Linked DNA regions of Homo sapiens. The protein of the gene in region 1 purifies or fractionates together with the protein of each later gene. This does not show direct contact. Each region holds a gene or a part of one and is shown in the gene's direction. Other genes may lie near its edges.

What was found. Proteins that work in one complex are often made in the same cells at the same time.
Region 2: the proteins of CHIA (region 1) and TPP2 purify together in Homo sapiens (affinity purification with mass spectrometry; 3 studies listed by BioGRID and IntAct, with this or other methods). This does not show direct contact.

Annotation. Positions count from the first base shown.
Region 1 is NC_000001.11:111,307,851-111,311,450, forward strand, and holds part of CHIA (acidic mammalian chitinase isoform c precursor), read left to right. Parts: intron 1-2,549; 5' UTR 2,550-2,617; coding exon 2,618-2,642; intron 2,643-3,600.
Region 2 is NC_000013.11:102,594,757-102,598,580, forward strand, and holds the start of TPP2 (tripeptidyl-peptidase 2), read left to right. Parts: upstream 1-2,229; 5' UTR 2,230-2,282; coding exon 2,283-2,447; intron 2,448-3,824. UniProt on the Homo sapiens protein: Cytosolic tripeptidyl-peptidase that releases N-terminal tripeptides from polypeptides and is a component of the proteolytic cascade acting downstream of the 26S proteasome in the ubiquitin-proteasome pathway.

The DNA of each region.
Region 1 (3,600 bases):
CAGCTGGTCTCAAACTCCTGACCTCAGGTGATCCACCCGCCTTGGCCTCCCAAAGTGCTGGGATTACAGGTGTGAGCCACCAGGCTTGGCCATATTTTTCTTAAAATGTATACCTAAACTCATGTGTATGGTAGATTTTACAATTAAAGAAACTAAAAATAATACAAGGTTATTGAAAACAATAATGTAAAAGGATACACATGGTCACAGTTTAAAACTATTCATTCTATGACTCATAAACGCAGTAATTCTTTCCAATAACCAAGTGCTCAGATGGGATGCAAGTTTGCTGGGGCTCTTAAGGAGCTATTAAAAAGAAATGTTTAATCTGTAGGTCATGTCATTTATTTAGAACTGGGGATGCCAAATTCAATAGAAAATACCTCACTAGCTATAAATGGTAGCTACACCCTATAGTCCTGAATACGATAAACCTGGAGCTACTGGCTTTGCTGTTTGTTTTTGCAAATCCTTGACTTTGATTTGACATTCTCTTTGGCTCAACTGTATTCTCTTGACTACCTTGGGAAAATGCCTCACTCAGTTTAACTTGGGCCAAAAGCTTGCGTACTTAACACAGGGATCTGGATCTGGTGTTTAATAGCTGATTAATTTTCTCATCAGCAAAATTGGTGTGATAGTAATAATCCTCTTTATAGGGTAAAAGAAACAATAAAGTCAAGCCCTCTGATGATAGTCATTTTTTTTAGTCACTCAGCTTTACTTTTTATTCTTTTAGAATTTCATTTTGTGACCAGTCCTTGTGAAAATGTAAATCCAAGTGCCCTGCCCTTTCCCTAATTGAGGGTCTGGTGTCATACAACAATATGCTTTTTCCCCAGGATTTAATTCTTGTCATTCATAGATGGAAAATAAAATTGGAGTTTATTTCTCCTAAGCCTTCCTCCCACACCCCTCCCCATAGAAAGACTTGGTTTCTATTGTATTAGAGGCAGGTTCTGTATTCTTTTTGATTCTGTGAGTTTCTTCATGTCTTTCAAATATATTGATTTGTGCTTCTTAGAGTTGGTTTTGATTGCTTACAAAATTAAAGCCTAAGTGATATAAGCACCAAATACAGTCTCTGGCACATAGTAGGCACTTGTAGTGTTTGTTGATATGATTATTTTCACAATTGAAATGTTCCCTGAACAACACACACTAGGGCCTGTCAGTGGGGGTGGCACGAGGGAAAGCATCAGGAAAAATAGCTAACGCATGCTGGGCTTAATATTTAGGTGATGGGTTAATAGGGACAGCAAACCACCATGGCACATGTTTACCTATGTAACAAACCTGCACACCTTGCACATGCACCCTGGAACTAAAATAAAATAAAAATTTTTCCTGGCAGCACTTCTATTAGACTTTCTCTGGTTCTGAGAGTAGAACAAAACACTTAACCTACCAATCACAGGAAGAATGGATACAATTTAGTTTCCAAATGTGATAAATGGATAAACCTGTCTGGACTCACAAGAACTCTGCTAAGGTGCTGAAATCCCATAATGATCACCCATATTCCCGCCAACTGCATTCCTGGTATTGTCACAAGACAGCATCATATAAGCAATACAGAAAATATGTGCTAGAGTACATAAAGTAAATCAAAAGAAGGAGAGAGCATTAAGATAGAAAAGATCTGAGTTGGACTTTGAAGAACTGCTAAGATTGGGATAGGCAGTGAGGATAAGGAGACACTGCAGGCAAGACATTACAGGCAAGGAGTGGAGGGATACCTTGAGCAAAGACATGCAAGGCATGTTTGAGGGCAAAGAATAGTCCTTTGGCCAAAAGAGAAATGTATTATAGAACAATGGTAGTGAATTATGTTTGGAAGGGGTAGATTGGAGTTAATTTAAATACAAAGTTCCAGAAACGGTCAAGTTGCAAATATTTCTATGAAGAGACTCATTTCAATATCATCTATATTATTTCTATCCATTAGCAACGCAGTTTTTAGGGGATGTAATTTGAAACTACAGAACACTAGAGAGTTCTTGGTGACCTTTATAGGGGACATTTTGAGATCCAAACATTCTTAGATAAAATTATCATTTAGTCATGACTTGAAGCCATTCCAAAGAACATGTGTGAGTAGAATATTGAGAGAGTAGCACCTAAAGAAGGAAGATTTCTTAGGCACTGATTGTACAAATTACATATGAATAATTCCATGAGGAAAAAAAGGTTTAAGAACAGCTAATAACTTCCAAAGTTTCTTTTTATTTATTTTTCCATAAAGACTTGCTTTGATGCCAGACACAAAATGTCCACAATAGAAAATCTGACCACAGTATCTAAACAGTTGCTTATCAGCCCTTGGAACTGCCAAAAAAGCTATTAAACTGGTGTTTTCCATGGTGATGGTCTCCACCACCCTGTTAGGAGCCATGACATTGTTCTGTCCTTGTTGGGCAGAGAAGGTGGTGATGCTGGTGGTGGGAGGGTGTAGGTTGAAGGTCTTGGGAGGGTGTTTGTAGAAGAGAAGGTCCGTTGATTTACTGATTAACTACATACACATCTGGGTCAAATTGTTCTCTATTTAGAAGCCTTTGTGATAACCACAGAATCAGAACATATAAAAAGCTCTGCGGGACTGGTGCTGACTGCAACCATGACAAAGCTTATTCTCCTCACAGGTGGGTTTGTAATCAGAGATTGACCCTTCATCTTATCTAGTTTCTTTTTCTCTCACAGGCTCTGAAAATCATGAAGTGGTCTTCATACTACATCCCTATACTTTTCCATTCTTCTTTCATCATTTCAAATTTCAAATGAATCTTGTTATATACAAATCAGTCTGCCTCTTGTTCTCTTAACTTCAACTGACTCTGGTAACATTTCTGCTTTTGTTAATCCCATGGACCTGGTCCTAAAGGAAAAGCATACTTTCTCCTAGTGCTAGTCTTACTCTTTCATCTTTTGTTCAGCCATTCATTTTTCTTTACTCTTCTTCCTACGCCATCTCATTTTAATTGGAATAATGTTTATTTATTTGCTTGTGTCCTTGGACTAGCTTTTCTGGGGAAGAAAATCAGTAGGAACTGAGATAGAGTTATGCAAGTTGTCTTTGTTCTGCTGTTTTCAGAATTATTTCTCTATTTACTCCCCTATTATCCTACTGAGTTGATGATGTACCATAAACATGTTAGAAATTAAATTATTCAAAGAGGTTGATTCAGTAAGTTGTTTAGAGACAAGTCATACCAAGAATTTATTAGTTGCTCTAGAGCTGGGATTTGCAAACTGTTTAAGCTTCAGAACCTTTTCCAAATGAAACCTCAAGCTCAATTTATAAAACAATCAGAGTAGAAGAATTGCTTTGTAGAAGTCAGGGAAAGGTATCTGGAGTCTCACCCCATAGTTCCTAGCTCTTCTCTCCTCATATAAGGCCTCCTGAAAGTCATTCCAAAAAACCACTAAAGGCCAGAAGATACTGAATTCTCTGATTTAGCAGATGCCTTATCTGTTGGAAGGCTGTGTTCTATCACTCAGGTAGGGGAAGAACGAATGGATGTGTCATCATTGACTACAGTGATCAGTTGGTGATTTCAGTAAGTACATCTTCCATAGATAGTAAACTTCGGACTCAGCATT
Region 2 (3,824 bases), on another chromosome or scaffold:
AGGTCAGGAGTTCAAGACCAGCCTGGCCAACATGGCGAAACCCCGTCTCTACTAAAAATACAAAAACTAGCCAGGTGTGGTGGCATGCACCTGTAATCCCAGCTACTCGGGAGGCTGAGGCAGGAGAACTGCTTGAACCCGGGAGGCGGAGGTTACAGTTACCCGAGATTGTGACATTGCACTCCAGCCTGGGCCACAGAGTGAGACTCTGTGTCAAAAAAGAAAAAGAAAAGGAAAGGAAAAGAAAAATCTAAAGAACATTGTTACGGCAGTCTAATAAAAAGTCTGCCACCTAGGTTTCATAATAAACTGTTCATTCCCCATTTATTCATTGGGTGATACTCTGGCAAAGTCATGCACATGGTGTGGTAGAACATACTGGGGAGAGATTGTGAGAAGACAAATCCCGTGTTTTCATCAACCTGTTTTGTAATCCATGACAGTCAGTTAACTTTGTTTCTTCATCTATAAAATGAAGTGATTGGACTATGGTTCACTTGAAACTGGGAGCCATTCTGTTCTATCACTATAAGCTCTATACTGAATGTCTTCTGCGAGTTTGTTATTCTGTTTTCGTCTGTGTTAATTTGAAATTCTTTTCTAGAGGTAATGTAAACAGTTGGGAATAAGAAGAAAAACATTCAACTTTTCTTTTTCCTCTGCACTAAAGAGAACATGCTTGTGTAAGACTTATGGACTGAATAAATGATCAAGGAATCAGCTGAAACCATTGCACAGCCATAAGAATAATTTTTGAGACTTAATGGAGGATCTCTGAAATTCTGTGGGTTGGAAACCGCATGCATAAGGCTTTCCTTTATACCAGGTATTCTTAACTTGGTGTCCATAGACAGAATCCAAGGGGTTCAAAAACTTCCGTAGAAAAAAGATACAAACCTCTTAATTTTTTTCACATCAAGTATGAATGTAGGCAAAAACCAGGGTAGTTATGCTGTTATGTCACCAATAAAAATCAGTTCATCGTAGTGCAGTTTTCACCGCTATCTCCAAATAATTATATTCTTCACTATTTTGAAGTTATGGTAGTTTATTAGCCTTGGCCCTAGCTCCTGTTATTTAATGCAAAAGAAGTACACCTGTAACTATACACACACACGTAAAGCTCCTGCTATATAACAAAATTGCCTTTAGTATTTTTGATAACTGCATTTAAACATAATTTATTTCCTGGGTAATCCTATCTATTTCATTGTATGCATTTTAAAACACTGCTTGAGAAATAGGCCTCACCAGATTGCCAAAGGGGTCTTCGGCACAATAAAAGGCTAAGATTACCCTGGCATGAGCATAGACATAAAGATCATTAGAGGACCACTATGCAGCTTGCAGCAACTGACGGCAGGCACTGTGAATCTGGAAAACTGAAAATTATGGCTCTATAATTGAGTGGACAGCCGTAAGGAGCAATCAGAAACTTCAGTGTAAGAGGAAAAAAAAAGATGTTTTTCAGAAATCCCGGAAGCTAAGGATCAGCAGAGGATAGGAGGGGCCCATTTCAGTCTCGTGCTTTGTTACTGGCTACAAAGGCGACGGAATGACCAACAACCCACTTCCTGTTGACTGAAACTATTGCCTGTCTCCACCCTATTGCTCCCCCTCACCACCTCACCCCCATCAAAGGGGCATAACAACACAGGGGAACCCAAAGTCTACACCCCTTAACCTACGACCTTCCAAAATCATGTCCGGAGCTTTCGCCGACACCGCAGACTCCTTAGCGGCTAAGCGTGAGTGCGCCGGCTCCCTTGCCTCGGGTCAGCAGCACCCCGGGGCTGGGGCTCCTGCAGCAGCCGCACCAAAAAGTTTCATCCACAACCTTAAGTTTGGAAACTATCGTTTGCCAAGCGAAGGGTTCCCATTATTCCTGGCTGGCGGTCCATCTCCTTGCCCGTCTCTCGGGGAGTGATTCGGTCCGGGACACCAGGACTCTGCTTGGAGGCCTGCTGTTGCCTAAAAACCCCAAGCGCGGGCCTCTTCAAGGCCCCAGGTTCGAGATCCGAACCCTCCAGTAATGTCCTCAGACTCCTCCCCCTTCACTGCAGCCCGGGCAATACTCGGGCCTAGCTCCTGAGAGCGGCGCCGTTGGCTTACGTAGCAGCACGTGATTGGCCACCGCTCCCTGGCAGGCCGGGATTGGTGGAAGACGGGCCGACCCCGCCCCTCGCCCCCGCCTCCGGCCCGAGGCCGCACGGGTGTCCTCGCGCTGCTAGTCCGCGCGCAGCCTGGCAGTTTGCCGCTTCCTCGTCCTCCATCCTGCGTCCATGGCCACCGCTGCGACTGAGGAGCCCTTCCCTTTTCACGGTCTCCTGCCGAAGAAGGAGACCGGAGCCGCCTCCTTCCTCTGCCGCTACCCGGAGTATGATGGGCGGGGGGTGCTCATCGCAGTCCTGGACACGGGGGTCGACCCGGGGGCTCCGGGCATGCAGGTGAGGCGGCCCCCGAGGGCCCGGGCGCGGGGGCGCGGGCGGCCGGGGACGCGGGTGGGGACACAGTCTCGGAGCCCGGCAGGCCAAAGCCCCGCTCTGCGGCCGAGTCCGGGCCGGGGTGGGCAGCACCGGGGTGGGCAGAGGTCAGAGCCAGGCGCGGGAGGGACGGGCGCCCGCCAAGGGGACTCAACGGCGCACAGTGCCAGGGTCGCTGGGCGGGCGAGGGCCCGGACCCCAGGTTGGGCCGTGGTCCCCCCAGCTCAACAAAAGCAGCGTGCCCGGCGCGGCTGCCTGGGGAAGCCTGGGTCCCCCTTTGGCCCCAGGGACTCCCCTTCCTTCTCGCTTCGGCGCTGCCAGGCCGGACCCCCCAGGCTCCTTCCCTCCACGCCGCCTTCCTCTGCCTACCCCTCGTGCCTCGGACACCGGTCCCAGCCTGACGTTTTTAAAGAGAATTTTACAGCTTTTATCATTGGGGTGGGGTGGAGACACCAGATAGGCAACTGACATGTGAGAACTTAATGTTTAGGGATCGGGAGATTTGGTTTGGGGAAGAATAGTTTGTCTTTAAGCACGAAAGCTGGGTTTCCAGAAGATAACCCAGTCCTCTTCCGGAATTGTTTCCTGTGGTAGTTTTGTGTATTCTATTTTTAAACGGTCTTCTGCAGCGTGTTTGCTTAGGGTCATTGAATCTTGTGGCTTAGTCTTCGTTTACATAAGGAGAATTCAGTTAGGTTTGGTTTTGGCGAGCTTCTCAGACCTTATGAAAATATGCGACTTTTTTTTTTTTAAACCTGAAAACATACGACGGTTTTTAAAAATTACTTAGTTTTTTGCCTTAGGCAACTTTAAAATCTGTAGATTCAAGGTATCATACCAGAAGGTAGTTTTTTTGAAAGTATGTTGTCTCTCGTTAAAAGCATTCTGTTTAAAGTCTTTAAAGTTTAACTTTTGTACTTTTAACCCTTTACTGAAATCCAGTAATAAAATTTCACCGTTATTCAAGATCCATCTCCCAGCATCCCTGACTAATCCTACTGTATGCTGATCTCTCGTTGATCAGCCCCTGGCTATCTTATCCTCCTTTCTACACTAAACACTCATCCTCCTCCCCACAATGTCCCTTCCCTTCTGGATCCTTTATCGTGCTTTCTGATTATTGAGGTAGCATTTTGGAAGTAACGAGGGGGAGTCTGGCCGAATCTGCTTAGAAACCCCTGGGAATCTTGATTCCTGGTGTGTGTTCTTCAGCACCACTCTGGAGTACAGCACATCTTTTGTGAATCAGAAGAGGATCAGGTACTGAATTCCCTCCCGGTAACTGGAGTTATATAGTTGTCGTTGTATTAATAACTTAAAGACTTAGAACAATGACAGCTA